Linked DNA regions of Homo sapiens: regions 1 and 3 are each linked to region 2. Evidence: fine-mapped expression QTL. A gene starts in region 2. Each other region holds a variant in brackets. All regions are shown on one strand. Distances are between the middles of the regions. Region 1 holds the start of LOC124903103 (small nucleolar RNA U13). Region 2 holds the start of MIRLET7IHG (MIRLET7I host gene). Region 3 overlaps PPM1H (protein phosphatase, Mg2+/Mn2+ dependent 1H).

The links.
Region 1: its variant is fine-mapped to the expression of MIRLET7IHG in anterior cingulate cortex (GTEx, PIP 0.97).
Region 3: its variant is fine-mapped to the expression of MIRLET7IHG in thyroid (GTEx, PIP 0.94).

Annotation. Positions count from the first base shown.
Region 1 is chr12:62,648,951-62,657,132 of GRCh38, reverse strand. The region is part of intron 9 of PPM1H (protein phosphatase, Mg2+/Mn2+ dependent 1H); the gene reads left to right. LOC124903103 (small nucleolar RNA U13) reads right to left here and starts at 5,958; the gene lies at 5,855-5,958. RefSeq lists enhancers at 658-1,278, 2,521-3,142, 3,143-3,764. The variant T/C (reference allele first, on the strand shown) is at 4,199.
Region 2 is chr12:62,597,692-62,605,873 of GRCh38, reverse strand. It overlaps MIRLET7IHG (MIRLET7I host gene), which reads right to left and starts at 3,131. Exons shown (of 2, transcript NR_186001.1): 1 at 3,039-3,131. It overlaps MON2 (MON2 regulator of endosome-to-Golgi trafficking), which reads right to left. Exons shown (of 35, transcript NM_015026.3): 35 at 5,398-8,182. LINC01465 (long intergenic non-protein coding RNA 1465) reads left to right here and starts at 2,440. Exons shown (of 1, transcript NR_121682.1): 1 at 2,440-4,123. It overlaps MIRLET7I (microRNA let-7i), which reads right to left and starts at 2,188; the gene lies at 2,105-2,188. RefSeq lists enhancers at 1,748-2,269, 2,270-2,791, 2,898-3,087, 3,168-3,277, 2,792-3,313 and 1 more and silencers at 2,118-2,417, 2,508-2,817.
Region 3 is chr12:62,713,115-62,721,296 of GRCh38, reverse strand. It overlaps PPM1H (protein phosphatase, Mg2+/Mn2+ dependent 1H), which reads left to right. Exons shown (of 10, transcript NM_020700.2): 6 at 1,008-1,126. Among named protein-coding and RNA genes, the nearest start is that of MIRLET7I, 110 kb to the right of the region's middle. RefSeq lists an enhancer at 3,217-3,729. The variant G/A (reference allele first, on the strand shown) is at 4,247.

The DNA.
Region 1 (8,182 bases), 51 kb before region 2:
ACTCCCAATGAGCCCAGTGACAGCACTGCAGACAACAGTTGTCGTTATTCTGGTGTCTCAGGGTATTCTGCCTGAGTGGAGTCCCCATAACCTGACAGGGGACAGAAGCTGGCATGAGCAGCTTCACCTGCTTAAGAACTCGGTTCCAGAGCTACACAAGGGGCATCTGTGGACCAGCTCTCAGCAGTGAATCTAAGATGTGTGCCTCTTCCCAGGATGAGTTGCCTAGTTCTGGGCACAACAAAGGCCATTCCCTATTCTAAGCCACCCCTGACCCTCCACCCACCAAGACGCCACTGCCATAGACCCCTGCCAACATTCCAAAGCTGGGAGAGCTTTTCTACCTCTTAAATTTCTGAGGCCTGCTCAGAATGCAAAGGGGATTCCTCCTCCTGTTCCCCTCACACTGTATTACTGCGGGTGTCAGCAGATGGAGCCTGCCTTTTATATGCAAATATTTGGAAGCCATTAATTCCCCAGTTCCTGCCACTACTCACCCTCTTATAAGACCCTGTCTGTACCATCCAAATGGCAAATTGAAGTTCCCACCCAACAAGAACTATTAAGAACTTTAAGATACGGTGATAGCCTGCAGCCTGAAATTGACTTATTTTTGACACTGTTGTGCTGATTCAGATGCTAAAGATTCAGAAAACAGACTATAAGACGTAGATGACTTATGACAAAACTCCTGGGGAGGAGAAAGGCATTTAATATCTAATAAGGAACATAACTAACACTTATTGACCTCCGATTGTGTGCCAGGCACTGTGCTGAATGCTTTATGGAAAGATCACATGGCTGTTACAGGAGCCTTGGAGGTCTGCACTATTATTGAGTAAGGAAAGAGGGGCTCCAAGAGGCTAAAAACTTCTTCCAGAGCCACCCATCTGGATGGTGGGAAAGCCAGGATTGGAACCTGGGCAAGCCACGCTTACACCCAGAGCCCTTTTCTGGTCCATTAGGAAGGAAAAGAACTAAGGACAGCAACAGAATCTGCAAGGACAAGAGGACAATCGAGGATTTATGGCCTCCTTCCGCCTGACTTTAAGAGTCAGTGGTTATGAAAAGAGCTTTGGCCTTCCCATCGCTCTTCAGCCCCTCTTCCTTTTTGTTTTCCATGCCTCCCCTGCTGTCCTTTCTCTGCTCCCTCCCGCTCAGAGCCTGAGCCCTGTGGAGTTTGCCAAGTCTGATCCCTGCCCAGCAGCCATTGCTTTCAGCAGAGCTTTGCTGATAAATATTGAAAGCTTCAGCTAGAGAAGAAAAATGTTCTCAAAATTCAAAACATGTCTCCTGGGGAGACTCTTCATTAGGAGTGGGCATTTCAAACTCCTCCGCAGTTGTCTAATGCAGCCTGGCCCAGCATTCAGTGACGGCACTAGGGCTGCTCCACACACAGCTTCCAGAAGCATCGGGCTCCGGCTGCCACACAGTCCCAGTTGGTGTGTAACAGAATCCACTACCCATTGGCTGTCTCCAGCTGTACCATATTCTTCTTGGCTGCTCTCTTGGATATTTTATGCTTATACAGTATGTATGTTTTGACTCAAATTTTCTTCTACTACTTTCTACAGTTCTCCTTTGATGGCACCTAAATGCCCTTGTGTTCAGCCTCAATAACAAAACCAATAAAGCCTTCCTGTTTTAATACCACCTTAAGCACTTTCACTGTCACCAACCCAGGGATCCCTGATGTAAGGTAGAAATTGGAGAATACAATGGGGGCAGGAGAAGCAGTTCTTTTCCTTCAGAGAAAGTTGTTTGTTTGTTCTTGCCCCAGTCTTGACATAAAGCAGCCTAGCAAAGGATTTCATGCATTTCATATGGCAAGGTGGCTCCGAAGATGGATGCAAATGAGCTCTGAAATGGCCACCAGCCTGGCCCAATATGGTAGCTAGCTGACACAAAAGGCCTTCTCCCAAGAGCTGAGTCCCCGGGGTTGTGTTGAGTTAATGAATCTATGAGGAAAGCTCCTGCGAGTGACTTCATCTTCCCCTAATGCTGTTGCTGAGTTTCACTGCAATGCTGGTCTCCTGTGGCATGAAGGGAATGTCAGGAAGCTGGTCCTAGAGCATTCGTACTGTCACCTATGGAGTGCAGCATCTAACGGCTCAGTTGTCCACGCACACTGCTCTTGGACAAGGAGGGATAGACATGCACTGGAGAAGCCGGCGGAGAGAAGCCGTGTGAAGGAATCCGACCTCCTGGGAACAGGGTAGGAAGAACAGGTCCTAGGAATCTTCCCTAAACTTCTCCCTCAGGCGGGGCTGTCCTTACGCTTCTGAAGCACATGGGTACATGGATCAGGGCAGCTGCCTGACAAGACTGAGGTTTTATGAGGAGGAGGAAATGGCTGGGTAGGTTTACCACACAGGAAAAGTGTGAAGTTAAACCTCATATGGTTAGCAGCGGCGAATCCATACAGGTCTGCAGCAACTCAGTTCTTGCTGCCTTGGAGGAAAGAATTCAGCCCAGGGACAAAAGGCAGAGTGAGAGACCGAGGCAAGTTTTAGAGGAGGAACGAAGGGAAGTAAAGTACATTTGGAAGAGGACCAAGCGGCCAAGCGGCCAACTTGAGAGATCCAAGTGCCTTGTCCGGCCTTGACTTGGGGTTTTATACATTGGCATGATTTGCGTTTCTTCTCCCCTGATTCTTCCCTTGGGGTGGGCTGTCTGCATGCACAGTGGCCTGCCAACAGTTGGGAGGGGCTGCATATGCAGTGTGCTTACTGAAGTACGCATGCTCATTTGTTTTTCCCTTATCTGTTGAGTGTTTCTGGAGGAAGGCCATATGATAGTTAAACTCGGCCATTTTGCCTCCTAGTGCGTGTGCCCACTCGCCTATCTCCTGAGACCTTATCAGGAGGCTGATCACCTGCTTCAGGTGTTGCTTTTTTTTTTTTTTTTTTTTTTTTGAGAAAGAGTCTCTCTCTGTCACCCAGATTGGAGTGCAGTGGCACAGCCTCGCTTCCCAGGCTCTAGAGATCTTCCCACCTCAGCCTCCCGAGTAGCTGGGACGACAGGCATGTGCCCAGCTAATTTTTGTATTTTTTTGTAGAGACAGGATTCACCACATTGCCTAGGCTGGTGTCTAACTCCTGGGCCCGAGTTAATCCACCCGCCTTGACCTCCCAGAGTGCTAGGATTACAAGCGTAAGCCACTGCACCTGGCCAGGTGTTTTCTATTGGGAGACTGCATTTCCCTGGTGCCAGCTGTGACCAATTGTTATTTTAGAGGGTTTAACAATGGCCTGACTATCACCTGATGGTCGCCAGACATTCCTGGGGGAGGGCCCTCCCCTGCCCTGATCATGTCTACCTAACTGCCTACTCTAACAATACTACTCCTGTGGTATGGGGATCCTAAGCCAAAAAGCTGAAATGAACATGTTCTAGCACTACAGAAATCCATACTGCCCCTCAGTAAAGGCAAATTTTAAATCTCTTTGGATAACCCAGGGCACATGTGAACAACCCCTTCTGAAGAAGCACTTATTCTTCTTCACACTCACCATGAAAAAGAATAACCAAATACAATAGAGCCTTCCCTCCGGGCCCTCAAAGAAAACCTGGGTGTAACAGAACAAGTTTAGAAGAGAGTTAAACTTGTGCAAATAGAATCATAAGGTCAGAAGAGGTCAATTTGGTTCTTTGGACAAGAACCAAAGAGAAATTCACAACGGTGAAACACTGTCATTGAAACAAAGTAATTCACTAAATGGATAGTAAACTGCTAAAGGGAGTTAGTGAATTGAAAGATATCGCAGAGAAGTTGAAATCTGCAAGGTAAAATAAGATCTAATAAGAGTTTATGGAGAATATCTACAAAATAGAGGAGAGGCAATATCCAAAAAGTTGATGGCTGAGAATTTTTCAGAAGTTTTCAGTTTGAAAGAGTAAAACTAATTTCTTACCATGATAAGTAAAAAGCTCCTTTTTGTTATGTCTTAGTGGTACTTCATATCAGCAACAAAAACACAAAAACTTGAAAAGCTATCAATGACAAAAGCCATTTACCTATAAAGGAATGATAAAAGACAGACTTCTCAAAAAGAGTAGAAGTCAGAAGTAAGCAGAATAATGTCTTCAAACTGCTGAGGGAAAATAACAGACAATCTAGAATTGCATAACAATAAAGCTATCAGCCAAAATCAAAGGTAAAAATAAAGATTTTCTTAATCCAAAGACTAGGTGAGCT[T/C]ACCACTCACAGACCATTGTTAAAAAAATTACTAAAAATGTAATTCAATGGAAGGAAATTAAATCCAGAAGCAAGGAGTAGTTTCATAAAAAGCAAAGAAGTTAGTATGTTGGTTTATTTATGTAAGTGTAGATTGTAAATGATAATGATTAAGGCAGGCTCAAAAAAAGGTGAATTAAAATAATAGGCAGTAACATGGAAAATGAAAGAAGGCATTCTAAGGTCCTTTTATTTTCAGGAGGACAGAAATACGATTAACTTATATACTAAAAATTTAACATAACTGATAATAGAAATAACACTTCCAATCCAGTTGGGGGAGGGGAATATTAAAGCTATCCACCTGACAGAAAACAAGAAAGAAGGAAAGAAGCACATAATAAATTAAAAACACAAAATAAGTTTTCATATGTGTGTGTATATATGACTGCAAAATATAGGTACAGGTCTACCAGTTTTTGCAATAAACAAAATTATCATCTTAGTGACTATATGGATTTTGTTTTAATTAGCCATGTGCTACTAATAAAATACACTTAAAATAATGCAAAGTTTATTAGCTGGGCATGGTGGAATATGCCTTAGTCCTAGCTACTTGGGAAGCTGAGGTGAGAGGATCACTTGACCCCAAGACTTCAAGGTTACAGTGAGCTATGATTATGCCACTGCACTCCAGCCTGGATGACAGAGCGAGGCCCTGTCTCTGAATAATAATAATGCAAAGTTTAGAAGTCCTACACTGCCCTGTGGATTTCATAATTGAACAATATCAGGGTGTGAAAGTGGCATTGAAAAACACTATGATTTCTTGCCTAAGAGACCAGGATACCATTAACTAAGGATGATAGCTGGGGATGTTCCACTTTGGAAGTAAAAAGAAATTAATGATCATTGAGTTCTTCCTAAGTCTTAGTTAGGGCCTACAAAGGAAATTAAGAAGGAGCATCAGAGAGAAGGACTTGTGCTGTGTGTCATGGAAGCCCAGTCACAGGAGAACTTGGAGTGGGTTATGGCATGGGAGCCCCAGAAAGAAAGGAGAATTCAAGAACAGAGATTTTTAAGGATAAAATAATCAGCAGTATTTGTGCTGAACACAAAGGGTTAAGCAGAATAAGTATTGAGAAGCCACCCTTGGATCAAGCTTTAAGAGGACAGATTAGTAGAGTATTGGGCCTACTGGTAAGAGACAAAGGAAGAAAATGGGAAGTAATAAATTGAGAAAGCAAGAGTGGATTTTCCCTCAGGAAGTTAAGCACCTAAGGGAAAACAGAGTGGATGGTGAAGAGAGAACCAATCTCAAAGGAAGTTATCTTGGAATAGGAAATAACCATATTGAAGAATGAAACCTTAATTACCTACAGCCCTCAGGGAAATGAGTTTCCTGGGTAGCCATCTTTTCTAGGTGACCTAATCCTTGCTTTTTAAAAATACCAAGCTAATTTTGACCATTTAAAAAATATGCAAAGTCACTAGTAATAGCAGCATCAGGGTGGTCTCTTGTTCATCTTTCATGACTCTAATAAAGCCAGTCATTTCTCCATGACTGCAGGACCTGTTGAGGCCTGTTTGGAGCTTAAAATAGCCATAAAGAGTTGTGTTTTGAGTTCCTGTATCTGTTTTTTGACATCTTTGAGTGTCTGTCTATCTCTTTTTCCATGTCTCATGGGTAATGTGCTGACGTAGTAACAAGGTTTAAGGGAGGCACATTTCACACGTAAGTGTGAAAACTCAAACATCAAGCTTATGAACTACAAAAGGATTGAGTATCTTTTATTGTCAGGCATATTTTCTCATAGCATACCATAATTTTCTATGTCTAGTCAGCTCATACCTGGGTTAAGGTGTGTTCAGGCCTGATAGGCAAATAAACTTAGCCAGGTTTCTGAACCTAAAAAGCTCAGGTGCAGACTGATCAATCACCAGGATAATAAACATCACTCTGGTGTGGCTGGTGGCCTTTCCCCATGTGTTTATGTCTCATATACAATTTAATATAAAACTAAGAGTAAGCTGGGGTGATATGGTTTGGCTCTGTGTCCCCACCCAAATCTTATGTCGAATTGTAATCCCTACATGTCAGGAGAGGGACCTGGTGGGAGGCAATTAGATCATGGGGACCGAGTTCCCCCATGCTGTTCTTACGATAGTGAGTGAGTGAGTTCTTACGAGATCTGATGGTTTAAAAGTGTGGCATTTCCCCCCTTCACTCACTGTCTCCCGCTGCCATGTAAGACATGCCTCGCTTCACCTTCACCATCCGGCATGATTTTAAGTTTCCTAAGACTTTCCCAGCCATACGGAACTGTGAGACAATTAAACCTCTTTTGCTTATAAATTACCCAGTCTCAGGTAGTTCTTCATAGCAGTGTGAGAATGAGGTGAGCAGCTGAGAGGCTTTTCTGACTATAGTGTATGAGCTGCAATATGTCGATTTTCAGATATTTACTTAGCTCTTCAGCCAAAGATCTCTTTGGAGGCCTTTATTTCCTGATCTCAAGAGGAGGAGAACCTCAGGACGAACTGTTTGCATCTTCCCTCAAGAATAACTTAAAGATTTCTGCCTCAAAGATGATAATTCTCTCAATACAGATAGAAAAAATTATTCACCTACTACCCCATCCTCTAGAAGGAAAGGTATTTATTTTGTATTGACTATAATATCCTTTCTGCTGTAGTGTATGTTACACTTCTGTCTGCTATCTGGGCTGTACAAATAGACTTGATCCTCAAAGACTGAACAACTTGGAATCTTCACAATCCTGGGATCATTTGTTAGAGGACTTGTTCTTAAATAATGTAACAATGATGCAGTTCTCAACATGAAAGTCTGTGAATTTTAGCAAAAGAAATGGAGAGGCTTCTGGGGTTCTGAATTCCATAACTCACAGCTCTGAAGGCGAGACTACTGAAACATTCCAAGTAGAGAAAGGTCACTAGCAATATCAGGGTGGTCCCTTGTAAAAGGCCCACAGGCTGGCTTCCAAGAGGACTTATACGGTGACATTTATTATCTTGATGATTTACCAGTCTGGCTCTTAGCTTTTCAGGTTCAGAAACTGATTTAATCAAGATACAGAAAAGAGATTCATTATCAGAGTTGGTCTCACCTTAACCAAGCTCACAAGATTGATCTGTAAAGCAAAATGCCACTTGACATTTAAGCAAAGAAATATAACTGATGGATATTCTTAAAGTAAAAACGACTAGCTCATTCTTTCCTGCAGGCAGGCCTACACAGGGAGGCAGATCATAATCAGGAGGTTCTTTGGTGAACACGAAATCAGAATAAAGCTGAATCATATGCTTAATGGTATAGACTAAGAAAATAGTCCATCCCACACCAAATATGACCCTGCCAGTGGAACTAAGTTCCTTTGAAGGCTGTCAACTATGACTCCCTCTGCTCTGGTCAGTGTTTGGATAGACACCTGCCAATGTTTTGTCTCATTTTTTTATGCCTCAGGGCTAACCCAGGCCCATACCCACCCAAATCACTTCCCAAGTTAGTCTTTCTCCTAGATGTTAATACTTTCCCATCAGCTTACAGTGTCATTCTTTCTCCTTAAGCTTACAGTTTAAATCTCAGCAATCTTATTTTCAAATTCTTAAGGGATCCCTTGCTGAACTTACATTGGTCAAGAGGAGAGGGTGACGCTGACAAGTAAGCAGCTCACTCACACCAAGGCTTATCAGTCATTTACAAAAAAAAAAATTAAATAAATTAAAAAAAAAAACCAAAAAACTTCACATTCTTGCTATATGCTTATGCCAGGTTGTATTATTTTTAACATTTTTCCTTAACTCACTTTTTTAAAAAATTTATTTTAAATGATTTTTACCATAAATAGAAAATGACTATTCTTTGTCACAAAAGCAATATAACTCTAAAACTAAATATATTGAAAACAAAAGTTCTGATTTTTCCCATGTACTTTTTAAGCTAGATACCATTTGTCATGGAAAGCTCTGAGCTTGAGCAGCTCT
Region 2 (8,182 bases):
GCCTTATTACTTTCCACCAGTGGCTTTTTACAACTACAAATTACTTAAATGCTTGACAACAGACCTTTAACAAAAAAGTTAACTGCACCAAGTAAATGTCAATAATACTAAGTTCAGAAAGCTGTATTTTTGATAAATCAAATTCATCTTGTGGGAAACTGTCAACAAGGAAAATGTTCAGTTGGTAATTTTCAGTTGGTGTGTAGAGAAATGTAATTAGCAGATCATTTTTAAAACTGGAGATTAGAGCAGAAATATAGCTATGGGATTAAAACAAGTCAGCTGGTGGCAGTATTTTCTCTTGTAACTTAGGAAACAGTTAACCTCTCAAAGTACCTTTACATCCAATAACTCAAAAATGTTACTACTATTTGGGCAATATGTAGTTGTGGATAAAATTTACTTTAAAAACACAAGATATAAAGTATGAATAGTTTATCTGTATAGGACATTGAGCATTTCTGGTGTGCTTATCCGCTTAAAGTTTAAATTACCAGCAGAATTTGTTATACTTTGGGGTGCAGATTAACAACCGTTGATTCTCCATAAAAATGTTAGAGTGTAGTGGGTTGGAAGATTACCTCGGTTGGTTGAATGAAGTGTTTTGGAAAATAAAATCATAATGAAATTAGCATGTTATGATTAGTTTCTCCATAAACCAAGATTTGACACAGCACCGCAGAGGTTTTCATTATTTAAGAAAACAAGCACTTAACAAAGCCCTGAATTTACTCTGCGTTGCTATCAAGAAAAGCAAACTTCAAGAGCCAACATTCAAGCATTTTCTGCATCTTAAGATTCAAGATAAGGTTCTTCACCGCCCTTCCCACAATGAGGCGGCTCCATCCTGATGAGATCAGATTAAGTAAGGTTATTCTCAAGGCTAAACCAAACCCAATCAAGGCACATATATTAGATCACTTTTGAATGATAAAAGCATCAAACTCCTGCTGAAGGGTTTGGTTGGTTTAAAGAACTGCCTTATTTGTTTTTCAACTGAGCATCAGAAAACCATAGAAAACTGCGATTACATTATATTCAAAACTACTTATTCTGTACAAATACAGATCAGTTTTCAACGAAAAGTACTAAAACTGACCACTTACTTCCCTCAGTGAAAATAAAATAAAAATACAAGTATCTTGTTTTCCACGCAGACTTCAGGGTATTAGAGCACTGAGTATTTTCATTAGTTATCCAAACTACCTTTTTTCTCTATGCAAAGGTATTTTCCTATTAGGAGTAGTGGCCACTCAGGAATCAAAATGAGTGTTAGTAGATTTTAAACTCAAATCTAGAAACCACTTTCAATTCCTAGTCCTCTTCTCCCATACAAAACCTCAAAGATGTAAGTACCACATAACATTAGAATCAAAGGCCATAAAAACCAAAAAACCAACCCACCACACCAGCAGAATCTGAGCCCCAAGGTTAAACTAAAAAGAAAAAACAAAAAACAAAACCATTCACAGCACACTGTACATAGAATTTATTTGTTTGCCTCATACATTAAAAAATCGGAATAGTGCAATTACCTACAAATAATTTCAATCTTCTCATTCGCGAGTTGCAAAGTTTAAAGAGAAACTTTAAATTGCTTTGGGTTTACGTTTTTAAAGACACACTCAGATTTACTAAGAGAGCATATCAGAAACCAGATCTAAAATGTTAAGGCATAAACTTTAATTATCAGGTCTACTTCTTCTGCCCCTCTAATGCCAGTTCTGCAGATCGCTCACACCACTCCAACCTACAGCTAAAGAATGAAGTAAAACAGGTACACACTAAATTTGGCATTTAACTGCTGAAAGAAGTGTTAGAATTTTTTAGGGTGAAAAAGTTATCTGTATCAATTATCTTACACAATTCCACTCCTTCCTTCAAGAAAAGGAATCCAATGGCTTAGCTCTTTCCCAACCTTTAAAATGCATCGCGGTCCACCCCACTCCCCTCAATTCCTTCTAGGAAAATGTGAAACTAACGGTTTCCGTGGTGGCCGCGCCGGCCGGGCGCCGAGGCTTCGCGGGCTGTCCCCAGGCAGCGCCCCGGAAAACAAAGGGGATTCCCAGCCATTGTCCTCCGCGGCGCTGAGCATCACCAGCACTAGCAAGGCAGTAGCTTGCGCAGTTATCTCCACAGCGGGCAATGTCACAACCCGACCAACAGCACAAACTACTACCTCAGCCAGGGCCATGGTGTCGGGGAGGCACGGGACCACGCGGAGGGCAGCAAAGCGGCTCCGGCGCTCCTCCGTCCTTCCTCGCCGCCGACGTCGGCCCGCCGCCCCTTCTTTTCCTTTGCCTTCCCCCCGCGCCGCGCCCGGAGACCCCGCCCAGCACCCAGCGGCTCGGCTACTCCCGGCGCGCCCCGAGAGCTACGGGGATGAGAGGCGGCGCCGGCGCCCGGGTGATACAGCCGGCGTTCTGTACGTCAGCCACCGCTCTGAAGAGAGAAAAGCGGCGGTGTCCTGCGGAGAGAGCCGCTCCCTCCACTGCCCGAGGGGAGCGCGTCGCCTCAGCCGCTCGAAAGCAGGAAATGGGCGGCAAAAGCGCAGTCAGACACCAACTGGTTCTGGACTGCCCCCGAGAGGCAGCGAGCAGCGCTCCCGCGCTTCGCCCGCTAGGAGCTGCCGCCACGTCCCGAGCTGCGCCGCTCGCGCCCCTCCCTGCTCCGAGTCCCCGGTGGGGGCTGGGCTGCGGCCGAGTCCGGTACCCGGGCCCCCACCCGCGCCGCGCTGTCGAACCCGCCGCCGGCCCGCTCTCGGCGCCGATAATCGCCGGCGGGCATCCCGCAGAGGCTGCCGCCGGCTCCGCCAAACAGCAGCCAAGGCATAGCCGGGAAGTCCCCAGGCCACCCGTTCCCCAGCACCCTTCGGGGAATTCCCGTTCAGCTCTACAGGAGGCGAAAACGGAACAAACGAAAACCCCTTAACAGTGAAACCGGGCCCGGCGATGGCCCGGGTGGCGACTGCGACGACTCGACGCGTGCGGACACAAGACCCGTCTCGCGCTCCGCTGCTCCTGTGCGTCCGGACGAACCTTAGAGATCACTTAAGGAGGCTCGCGCGCTACTCCTCACCACGTGACCGCCCCGCCAGGCCGCCCCCCGCGCCGCCATCTTACATCCGGGACAGAGGCGGCGTCCCCTTTCCCTGCCTTGGCAGGCGTCAGCGTGCTACCAGAAATCAGCCCTGAAAGAGGGGACCCCGATTCCACGTCACCAGAGTGCTGAGGCAGCGGGCGATGCCCTCCATCGGCTCAGCGGGGGGGAGTGGAGTCCCAAACTTTTTTCGGCCTTTGCCCGCAAAGAAGATGGCGGCGCATATCGCCGCCTAAGCGGACACGTTGTACCCTGGCCGTGGTTTGAAGTTTCCGGCACCTCCTTTCCCAACCAGCAAGGACACAACCATACGAGCCCCACCCACGCGGGGTGGCTGCCGTGCTACATTCCGCAGAAAACAGGCGGGAAAGCTGCGGCACAGCCCGCTTTAAACGCAAGCTTTTGGGACTTCTGGTTTTGGCTTTTTCTTTTTAAGCCAAGTTAGGGAGAAGGCTGACTGCCATGGAGCCACTTCTGCTTTTGGCCCAGACAACTTACGGGATTTTTTTTTTCCTCCCATTTAGAGATTTTTTGTAGGAAGTTAACAAATTATTTTAAAGAAGTAGTTAGGGCTTGTCAGATAAAATACAGGACGCCCAGTTAAATTGGAATTTCAGATAACCAGTGTTTTGGCATATGTGTGTTACATATATTTTTAAAATTGTTTATCTGATATTCCAATTTAACTGCACATTCTCAATTTTTAATGACTGTATCTGGCAACCCTATCAGCCTTTACCCCTGAAAATCCAGACTGCTTATGACAAAAGTAAGGAATGGAGGGAAATGAAAAGCATGTTTACCTACAACTTAGAATTGTCTTTGCCCAGACTTTGATCCTTCATGGAGGCCAGAGGGCCGTGGTCTAGAACAAAATTTGGCAGCAACTCATAAAGATATCCTTGTATAATTCCCTTTCTGGCAAAGTAAGATTTTTTTTTTCTTAAGCTATCACGATGTAATTTTGGACAACAGATCCTCTTGGCCAAGAGTTTAATTGCAAATTAAAAATTAAATAACTGGCTTTTTGTTTCTATTCTACATGGTATAGGCGATGGGACCCAAACAATTTCTTAAAGTAGAAGTTTTCAAGTTAAAAATCAGCCTGCCTGACATATTTCATAAGAACATTTTTAGGTGCATATTCAGAAACTATTTCCAATTAAGAATATTTGTGTAAACATAATACATTTGCAGTTAAATGCTTTACCTGACAAAGCATAAACTCACCTATCAATCACTAAGCATAAACTCAAAGCAAAAACTCAATCACACCATAAACTCATCTATCAATCACTTACCAGAAAGTCTGTAGAAACTTCACACCATCCTTCCTTGATAAGCAAAGATTGGACTGCCATGGGAATCAACCCTCACTGCTCATTGACTGCGCAGTGGATCAGATTATTCTGTACCAAAGCAAATGTCCTTTGCCATAATGGCACAGATTTTTAAATGGCCACTAAACACCTGTTTGGTCTATGGTATACAGATTTGTTACAGCAGTAGTTTCCAACTAAATTTAGTCATTATACTACTTTATCACTTACATTCCTTTCCATAATGTTTTTAACAGTGCTAACACCAATATACTCATCATCCACATATAATGTACTGTTACCATCAACTTTTTCTCCCCCCTCCCTGCATATCAGGAATCTTAAGTATCCTTTCTGAATATGACCACCGTTAATCAATTCTTTATCATCACCTCATAGCAAGAAAATTGCAACAGCTTTCTAGCTTAGCTTTCCATACTGTATATATCCTATCCTGCTTATGATTGCAAGTTTATCTTCCTTGGTTTTATAATTTATTCTTAAATCACTCCAGACCCTGCCATCTCAAATCTAAACTACTCTCCTTGGCTTTCAAGGAATTTTATGAAGGGACCCAATCCTTCACAACCAACCTTGTTTCACACAATACACCAAAATGCACTGTTTTCTATTTCACAGATATGCCTTGCTCACATTATCTTGCCTGAAATCCCTCCGTATATCCTTTGAACTCATCCAAAATCTAGGTAGCCATCAAGACTAACTTTAATTTCTATCTTAACCACTGAGCTTTTTCATTTCTTTAAAAAACTTCCTTCTGACTACTAACAGCACTATTAACCTGAACCACAGAAGACTAGGCTAAGGTTCCTATTTTATGATTTCATTTTAATCTGTACTTGTCTTTTACTGTACTTTACATACTTGTTAAAAGGTCTGTATTCCCTATAAAACTGAAAACTCCATGAGGACAGAGACTAACCCAATGCTTAACGCAAAAACAGGGTCTAAACAGTTGTTAGTGATACACCAGTATTTAATTGTATAGTCTTGTATCCAGTATTATTTTATATATGCGGTTTCCTTGACTAGCTGTAATAAGCACTTGAGAGCGCTCCAAATAGCTTCTGTCATACAGCAAGGACACAGTTATTAGCACACAGTAGATTCTTAACATTCAGTGGTTGTCTGGTGAAAGGCAAAAAATTGGTCCCTATTGTGGGAAGACATGGATTTTCTGGCCATTCTTGAATGATGTGTGCCAAATGTGTTTTACTTCCCTAACCACCTAGTGGTGATGATGCTCCAGGCACAGCGCTTTAGAACACACTACATTTTGAATTCTGTTAAATACCACGATTAACTCCATTTCACAGAGGAGGACACCAAAACAGGTTAATTAACTTGCCCAAGGTCACACATTTAGTAAAATAACAGAGTTGGGATTTGCATCTAAGAAGCCTGGCCCCAGACTCTGGGCTCTTAACCACAATGCTGTTATTTATAACATAACTTCTTAAAACACACAACATATGTTTTAAATAGATAAAATGTTTTAAACCTGGACCAATAATAAAAACCCAATGCAACTTTCAAGGTCATCGTTAAGACAAATCTTTTTTTCACAGTATTTTTAGTTCTTTGTTATGTTCAAGTATATTTGTCCCAGTGCCCATCATAGAAATAGTAATTGCCTCAAGAGTATTTTTAGTTTATTTTATAAGTCTTGGATTTTAATGGACTGTAAAACATGAAACTATTGTACTGTAGTAGAAAGAACTGCTTTTGAAAAAGCAAGACATAGTGATCCACCTGGACTTTAGGTATGTGACTCTAGGCAGCTCACTTCAACCCCCTAATCCTTGACTCTTCTGTAAAATGAAAATAACTTCTTTGCAAGGCTACTTTGAGGATTAAAGGGAATAATATAGGCAAAGCCTTGGCCTGCACATACTAGGTACTCCAGAAATGGTGGTTAAAATTACGCATCAGAAAAATTATTTTAACTATATCTGACTGCAGTACACACTGAGTAACGTACAAATTCTTGTTTTATACTTTCATTACATAACAAAAAAAGGAATTTTAATGCAAATTATTTTCTTTGAGAGGTAGAGAGATAGTCTGGCATTGATATGGACAGGCAGTTTCAAAACAGCTTCACCAAATTAAAAAAAAATGCTCATAAGATTAAGATAATCTAATCTACATCAGGATTTTTACTTGACCTAGCATTTTTACTTAAAGTTCCAAATCTTTCTTTCTAAACTATTGAGAGACACTTCGTGTCTTCTGTTTATTATTTTTTCATTTTATATATTAATGGTTTTAATAAAGCTCTCAAGAACATTTCCCCTTTACTCTATAATTTTTTTTTTCCCAAAGTGATCATCCTAAACATGTGACTCACTACTCGTAAAGTCTTTAAACAGAGTAAGTGATGTGGGGTGTCAATAATGTTTCAGACTTAACGGGGATGAGAAAGCAAACACAAAGTATATTCAAGAAAAAAATGAATCACTGGTCAGATCCAAAGGTAAATTATCAAAGTGGTTATGATTTTAAGTTATAAAGAAACACTAGTGTTGCTGGAACATAATTAAAAACCTGGAATCATGCTTAATGTTAGCTGTAAAACAAATAAACAATCTGTACAATCACAGTTATAACTATATAGCTTTCATGAAAAATCTATCCTAGACTACAAAGAAAATTTGGGTTTGAGGCCAATACAATTTCATGATTATAATACATAACTGATACATCTCAACAACATAAAAATTGTAAGGAGAAAGAGTAACAACAGTGGTATTACTTTCAAGAATTGTGTTGGGAACTAAAAAATAATTTCACAAAATTAGATAAATATATCCAGTCTGACATAAACACCATATGGTAGCTGCCTTAAGAGACAGGAGTTGTATGTTACGTGTTAAATTATGACACAGAGGTAGTAGTAAGAGATGGAAAGCAAATGAAATTTGCACAGTTGGGTCTGAAGCCTAATATTTTCTTTTTCTAGATAAAAATAAAATTGCAATATAGGTATGGAGTATTTTTCTCCATCTAGTAAACATCATAGAAGGAAGCAGTTGTTAATATATTGCAATGATTTTCCAAATAACGGCATGGTTTAGCAGATCTTCCCTGGCTGCACTGTTTATTGAATTTTAGTTTAAAATAAAACTTAGTGTAACTACATTCGCAGCAACTGAAAATGGTCTGAAAATTTAATTTTTTCATACTTGAGGGGATAGAATCAATACCATAGTACAATTAGGAAGGTTTCAATTGACCTCTGGGTGACCTCTGGGTGAACCAATCACACAGACACCAAATACACTCCAGAAAGACTCAGATATGAGAACTATAAGATTCCGGGTCTTCCATCAAAGACTGCTTTGCAACAGAAAAATGAAAATAGTTGAAATACATGGGCAATATGCTGCCTCAAATTATTCTTGTAAGTAGGCAGTGTCAATATAAATCAATATTAAGATGGGATAAATCTAAAAGTTTAAACGTCTGCCTCAAAAAAACAAATATCTCCCCCACCCCCCAAAATCATAAAAAACCAAAACCCTAATTAAAAATATTTTTTTGAACTAGAGATAGGATCTTGCTATGTTGTCTAGGCTAGTCTCAAACTCCTGGCCTCAAGTGATACTCCCACCTTGGCTTCCCAAAGTGCTGGGATTACAGGTGTGGGCCACCACGCCAGCCAAAACCCTCATTTAAACAGGTTTTAAATACTTTACTTTGAGAAAAGATATATAATCTCTCTACCCACATAACAGAAAAGA
Region 3 (8,182 bases), 120 kb before region 2:
TGACTACCATCTAACTAATACCTCCAGACCTTCATGAGAATCAGTGAGAGATCCGCCGGCATTGGGTCCTAGCAAAGTAGCTGTAAGAGATGCCTATGACCCATACACTGAGGACCTGACCATCTGCCTGGTGGCAGAGATCCCTTGCTTTCCTACACTGCCAGGCTGTGATTTGCTCTGCCCACTCTTTTCCCTGCCAGAAAAGAAAGAAGATCCATTCCACCATGCTGCTCAGAAGCAGGTAGACAGCTTCATGTGGGGAAGTTCTAGTGCAGGCCTGCTTGCAGCATGTGGCCTCTGAGTAGAGAAGTTAGTACGTGAGCATTGCGTCTCTCGGATTGCTAGATTTGAATTTTGAATGTGACAATGAGACTGTTGTTTCAAAGCAATTCCCTAAGTGGCTGTTTGCTCAAGACTTTTGTAGTGTGAACAGAGATTTGGGGGAGGGGGAGAAGCCATCTGCTCCAGAATAGTCTTCGAATGACACGATCAAATGACTGCAGAGCAAACTGGAGGGAGTCCAACAGAAAGTTCCTGTCTGCTGCATCCAGCCCCAACCAGCACTCAAGCCATTGTGTTTACATGGAAGCTCACACACAGGTTTCAAAGGCAAGGCCGTGATAACCAAGGATGTAAGTGAGATGAGTGTGGAAAAGACCACGTCAGGGAGCTTTCTCACCCCGTATCTCACCAGTATACCATTTGGAAAACTAAAAAGCCATTCTTTAGAGAGAAGCTCAGTCTTTTTTCCTGATCCCTTCAGCTATGCATTTGGTTACAATTAATGTATCAGATCAAATGAAAAAGTTACATTCCTTTGTAAATTCATTTTTATGTGCTCGTCTTCTATTAGTGTTTAAACTCTGAAATCTATTTACTTAAAATATGAGGCAATTTTCTTGTTTTTAAAATATGGCCTGTCTCAATTTGCAAAACATCCTTGATTCTTATTTTGTTTCTCTAAATACGTGTATGTGTGTGTTTTTTCTTTTTCTTTTTGCTATTAGGCATTCATGCAGCCTCACTTGCTGGGAAATGAGTTCACACATTTGGAGTTTCCAAGGAGAGTACAGAGAAAGGAGCTTGGAAAGAAGATGCTCTACAGGGACTTTAATATGACAGGCTGGTAAGAACATGCCTTCCTCTGCCTCGGAACCACACAGTGTGTGTGAAGGAAGCATCACCACCATAAACAGCCAGTTACACAGTTTGGATCAGGAAGCACAGCCAGAGACCAGGGTTTGTGGTAAAAGACAAGGGGGTACACCTGCCTCTGCTATGTTTGCTTAGGACCAAATCACGAGCCTTGGTTTGCCTCTCTGCTTCTTCGAGGCCCTCCTTGGGGATATTGGACCCCAGGAAACTGACCTGATTTCTCACTTCACATGTAGCAAATATTTGAGGGCTTTAAAAACACATGAAGCTTTATGTGTTTAGGTCAGGGTTATTAAAGAGGTAGAATGGCCAAAGGTTTATTGAGCCAGACTGACTTGGGTTTGAATCCTGACTCTGATTCTTCTAAATGAGCAAAGTTGGTTAAATTGCTTAACCTCTAGAGCCCATTTTTCCATGGATAAAGTGATAAAAAGATATATCCTTTGAAGATTCATTATCAAGGCTAAAGTTAATGAGCTATTCTCATTAATATCACATTCAAATTGAAATAAGAACTCTTGTCAGGGGGGTTGTCGTATTCCGAAAACACAACTGTGTAAGCATCAAGAACATTTCTAGGATGGAGCAGTGGCTAATGTTGACTAAGACCTCAGCTATTTCTTTTATCTGACTGATAGATATGATAAGTACTTATACACTATAGGGTTAATGTAAGGATTAAATGAGAGCGCAGTGCCTGGCACTGTGTGGGTGAAGATTTGCTCTTGTGCCCTGGGGTCCTAACGAGCGAGCCTCCTGCCAGTCTGGAGACCATATGAGAATGAGACCATGGACCCTTTCTTCCCCATATCTCCAAAAGAGTCAAAGAAGTAGATTAAGTAGATTTTCTTATCTCTTCCCCATTGACCAAAATAGCAATAGCAGATGGTCACAGCCCAAATTCCCATGGTGATGACTTGGCCAGGGATCTACTGCCAGGGTACATACTGTCTTCAGGGAACAAGTTGAGCTACCCAGAGAAGATAAGAGGCCAAGGGGCTTCTGGTTGTCCTTTGCCAACCAAGAGAAGTTTCTCACCTGTATCCACTCTTCTTCCTCTACAACAAGGTTAGCAAACTATGACCTAAGAGTCAAATTCTGCCTACCCCATCTACTTCCAGAAATAATTTTTAAAAATATAGCTACACCCATTTGTTTGTTTGATCTGTGACTGCCTTCACACTGCAACAGGGCAATTAAGTAGTTGCATCACAGACTGGTTCTCAAGCCTAAGAATTTACCCCTGCTCTAAAATATGAATGGATTTATCAGAAAGGGTTCACCTTTGCAGCTCTGAGTTCTGGAGTTTTGATGCCCCAGGGTCATCATACCAACCCTGACTGGGTTTTCTTGTGAATCCATTTTTATTTAGTTAGCAAAATCAGCACTTGTACAGGAAAAGTTTAATGTGAGAGCTAGTGTAATTCAGCAAAGCATCATGGGGTTTAGTCTGGGAACTGTAGAGTTTGGAAAGATGGAACGTTAGGAACCCACATGGTTGTAAACACATAAAAAGAGTAGATCTAAAAGACAGCAAGGAACATGACCAAATAGAAGAGGAGAGACTATGGGAGACAGATGGGGCTGGTACTGAGGGAACATGATAGGGAAAACGGGATGCCAGACAAGTTTAGATTTACTGGGAGGCTATGGGGTGCTCTTATATATTCCTGAGAAAGAGAAATAAATGAAAGTGATGTTTTTGGAGGGCCATTCTAAGAGAAGTTGGAATGAGATTGACTAGGAGAGAAAGCAGATTCAGGTACTCAGAGAAAAACTATCATAACAACATTTATGTGAGGTCTCGAGGCCTAAATAGAGGGATAGAAGCAGAAAACATGGAACGAAAATGAATAAGAAACTAAATGATTTAGGCCAAGGGATAAAGGTAAGAGGTTAAGTCATTGACAGCACCAGTTGCCTATTTAAATATGTCTCTTTAACAAGTCTGTAGGCTCCTTGAGGGGGACACCAGTGCCTAGTCCTGTGCCTGACACATAGTAAACAGGCAGCAATTATGTATTGGCTGAAAGGAATAAAGGAGGTATAATTGACAGAAGTGGGGAGATCAATGTTGCAGACAGTTGATGTGCACATTTAAAGCAGATTGAGCTTGAGGCAAGGCTGTACCTATGTTCTTTCTATGCCAGAAAGGCAAATTAGATCTAAAGTAGTCAAAACAAATGATAAATATCTGCCTAGGATTTTGTAATAAGGAAAAGTATCTTTGTTGCAGATGCTTAGTATTGATTCAAAGGGGGAGAAGAACAGCTCATTGTTACTAACTTTGAAAAGCACTCCTAATGAGATAATAGGCATCGTCACTTTAATGGGCCAGATGCTTTCAAAGGCTGTAAAGGTTCCACTCAAACCTCTCTTTGTAAGTAGAATGTGTGATGAGGTTAGTTTTTTTATGTTTCTTTCTCCAAACCCTGGAAGCTCTGCTTTTGTGTTTTGTTTGTTTTTGTTTTTTGTTTTTGTTTTTAGTGGCTTGTACATTTTAATATTTAGAAAATGGCTAAAGATTGTCCTGGTTTTATAATTAAAAAAAAAATGTAGCTAAGTTCAGGGACTAGATTATATCCAACTTTATATGCACACAGTTACTTTCTTTCACTCTTGCGTGCACACTTGCTCTTGTTCTCTTTCTCATTTTCCTTCTCTTTCTCTCTCTCTCTCTCTCTCTCTCTGCATTAGCATGGTCCTAAGCAGATAAACAGTCCACAAATGGGCTATTTTTAATTGTATAGAACTTCACAGAAGGTAATGAATAATGAAGGAGCCACAACTGAGAATGGCTTTAGTCAGATGTGATTTGCTGATTTGTTTTCAGCCTAATTCCCCAAACGGCTGTTGGCTCACAACCTTGGCTACAAGCAGATTTATGTGCATCTTTGTGCATTTCCTACCTGTTCCAACTTTTGATTTGAAAATAGGACTTAAGTTGAAGAAAAGCCCTTTACATCTTTGTCAGAAGAACCTAAGAAATTGAAAACCAGTTTAGGCCAAGCACAGTGGCTCATACCTATAATCCCAGCATTTGGGGAGGCATAGGTGGTAGGATCAGTTGAGTCCAGGAATTCGAGGGTGC[G/A]GTGAGCCAGAATCATGCCACTGCATTCCAGCCTGGGCAACAGAGCAAGACCTCATCTCTAAATAAATAAATGAATCAGTAAATCAATCATCCATTCAATTTAGACTACTGCCTACGTAAAGCACTCCCCCCAACTTTAATGAATTCCTTTTTAAAATGTTTTTACCCTCTAGCAGAAAGCCTTAGATCTAGCAGTTATTTTTTAGGACTTAAAGATGGGAGGCTGGGCATGGTGGCTGATGCCCATAATCCTAGCACTTTGAGAGGCCGAGATGGGAGGATCACTTAAGCCCAGGAGTTCAAGACCAGCCTGGGCAACATAAGGAGACCCCATCTCTATAACAAATTTTTTTTAAATTAGCCAGGCATGGTGGCATATGCCTATGGTCTCAGCTCCTCAGGAGGCTGAGGTGGAAGGATTGCTTGGGCCTGGGAGGTTGAGACTGCAGCAAGCCATGGTTATGCCACTGCACTCTAGCCTGGAACCCATTCTTCTGAAACCTTCTAACAAGTAAAAAGTCCACCTACTGCAAAGCTGTTTAATCCTTGTAGTAAATGCCTAGTTGTGGAATTTTTTTTCTTCCTCATCTTCCACTAATCATCATGGTAATGGGGCTGACAATTATTGGAAGAGCTAAGGGCCAGACACTATGATGAGAGCTTTACCTAATTCCTCATACCTAACGCTTAAAACAGTCCTGTGAACTAGGTACATTTTACAGATGAGGAAACTGAGGCACAGAGCTAAGTTGCTCAAGGTTACATAACTCGTAAGAGGAGAAAGTGGGATATGAATCCAGGCAGCGTAACTTCAGAGTGTGTGGTGCTTACTAAGGTGCTAAACTGCCAAATGTGGAATGACCCCCCCTTACTCCCATTTTGCAGGTGAGCAAATTGAGGCCTAGAGGTATTAGGTGGTTTGCTCAGCTTCTGACACAGCTTGCACACAGCTGATGCAAATGTGTCAGAATAAGGACTAGAATCCAGGTTTCTGACTTTTTGTTGGGGTTCTTTCTAATACAGTGTGCCAGTCAGCTTTTCTTTAGGATAATTAGACATGATCATTCAGTTTCGAGCTTCGGTGTACATTTAAGCAGGGGCCCTCTGTCCACCAGGACTGGTGTCTTGACGATCCTATAGGGTCAAGAGGATGGAATGAAGCATTTTAGGACTGCTGAGGCCGTCCCTTTTCTAGTCCCCAGTCTGACCCTGTAGACCATTGCTCAAATTAAACTGATGCTTCACACTTCTCACTAAGAGCTTGTGTCATTTGGGGGTGGGGGTTCTGGGGAAGATCCCAAAAGGACCAGTTCTTAGAAAAATTGCCTGCTCTCATTAGAGGAGCACCACGCCGGCACTCAGTGGTGTGTCTGCTGCAGGAGGAAGTGTGGGAGAGGATGTCAGCTCTGGGAAGGCTTGTCTCATAATTAAGGATGAGTCTGTTGCCTCTTAATGGGGATCCTTTTTTTTCCCACCCTCATGCTTTCACGGAGACTGTGGAGCAGCTTGGCAGGCTCAAATTGTTTTGAGGACAAAAGGTTATTGTCACCAGGACCTTCATAATGCAGTTGGCCTCTTCCCTGGCTCCCCCACCTCCCCTTCCCCCTCTCCTCAGATAGTTTGCACAGTGGCTAGATTTACAAAGCCATTCTCTTCGCAGTGCCCCCAGTGCTGAGTTCATTCCTGATGGAGTCTTCCCTTGCTCTCCCTATCACCCCCTTGGCTCTCACCTCCTGCGCATGGTGTCATTGGTCCCGGTGCCAGAATCCCCAAGCTGGGGCCCATCCTCCCCATCCCTTTGTGTTGAGCTGCTGTTGCAGGATGCACACTGTAGCTGGCATTGTGTTGCCTTGAGAGCAGTGTATCCCGACCCGCAGCCCTCTGAGATGTCTCAGGCCATAATTTACTGGCAAGTGTCTATGTTACCGAGTTGAAACAGCAGTTTCTCACAGCTCGCTTTGTGGCACCAAGTCTCTGCTCCTGTGACCACTGGCTATTCCGCTTTCTCAAGTAGGATCAGCGTACTTCGTGCCATGTCCAGCCACCTGGGGTGGCAAGCAAGCCAGGGACCCAGAGGGACATGTGTGTGGGAGGGGGCTGAAACTTCACCCCTGGCGCCAGGCCAGATTCTCCAGCAGCTGTTCCTGGGCTGATGGGATTTGTAGAGAGAGCAAGGGCCAAAGAAGAAAAGTCCATCTTGTGAATGCTAGATTGCTTCCAGATGGTTCTGGTCATGAGCAAAGTATACCAGAATTCTTCCTTTAAGCAAAGCCTTTCTAACGTTATGATGGTCTCATTTCAGGGGCAGGCTGGACTGGTAACTTGAGATCACATGCTTGACTTGGTAAAGAGAGTCCTGTTTTGGCGATAGGCACCTTGTGTACTTTGCTCTGCCAAGCTTCTGGGGCCTTGGGCAGATCCTGGCCTAGGTCTCTCGTAAATACTTCCTCTGACCATTGCTGCGAACCTCTAAGTGTGGTGGCGGCAGGGGGTAGGCTTTGCTCTGCTTTTAGAGCTGCTGGAAAAGACAGATCCCATTAGAAAGATTCCAGAGATGGCAGTGTTTTATTTTGTCCCTTAGAGCCCCTAACTTTTTATAATTCTAACTTGATGATACATCACGATAATTTTCCCTCCTCTGTTTCCCTTAAAACTATGAGCAAATAGGGGATTTTCCACTGGGAGCAGAGTGGAGTTAGCCCATTTTCTCCTTTCAGCACTTTCTACTTTTATTGAGGCAAAGAGAAATTTCCATTCTCTGTGCTCTCGAGCACAGTAGCCACTAGCCACATGTGGCCATTTAAATTAGCTAAATTACATAAAATTAAAAATTTATTTCCCGAGTTGCCCTAGCCACATCTCAGTTGCTCAGTAGCCACATGTGGCTAGTGGCTGCTGAATTGGACCATGCAGATATAGAACGTCTCCATCATCACAGAAAGTTCTACGGCATGGTGCTGTGGTCTACATAGTAGAAGAGCGTGGGTATAGTTGGGAATGGTGTGGTGCAAGGAGCTCTCTGTAACTCAGCATCCCAACAGCAAAGAGTTTTTTGTTTTGGTTTGTTTTTTTTGTTTTTTTTAAAGACAGGGTCTCACTCTGTCACTCAGGCTGGAAGGCGGTCACATGACCATGGCTCACTGCAGCCTCAACCTCCCGGGCTCAAGTGATCTCCCACCTCAGCCTCTTGAGTAGCTGGTACTACAGGTGTGTGACACCACACCCTGCTAATTTTTGTGTATTTTGTAGAGACAGGGTTTTGCCATGTTGCCTAGACTGGTCTCAAACTCCTGGGCTCAAGCAGTCCTCCTGCCTCAGCCTCCCAAAGCGCTGGGATTACAGGGATGAGCCACCAAACCTGGCCCCAAAGAGTTTTTTAAAAGGTGGGATGGGTACTGATAACTGTGGACAGGGAATGGTGTAGCCACACCGGCCTCTGGTGCCTCTGATGCCAGACTCTGAGTCAGCAGAGGGGTGGGCTTCACACCCCTTTCCTGATCCTCAGGGGCATCAGTCATTGTGCTTAGGAACAACTCACTTCATAGCCAGTAGTCACTTTTGGGCCACCAAGAAGCTGCATCCAGCTGGCCAGACTAAAGGGAGACCCATTTCATCAGCCCTAGTCAGTAGCGCACCTCCCCTCCTCAAGCAGCCCAGCAGCCTTCTTTCAGCTCTCTCCCCTATCTCCTGGATGAGGACCAGCTGCTGGCACTCTTGTCCCTCTTGCTTTTCCTTTGATTTCTTGGGGAGTAATTCAGGCCCTGAGAATATGATTTAAAAGCAGCTTGGCTTCCAACCCTTTCCACTGTGTTTGGGGTGACCTTTATTCTCCATCTATAGCCTGGAGTTTGGCTTGGGGTGGAGAAGCACAGCCCCACAGCATCAGGCTTCTCACCAACCATCCAAACGCTTTCTGGAGAGAGAAACTCACTGGAG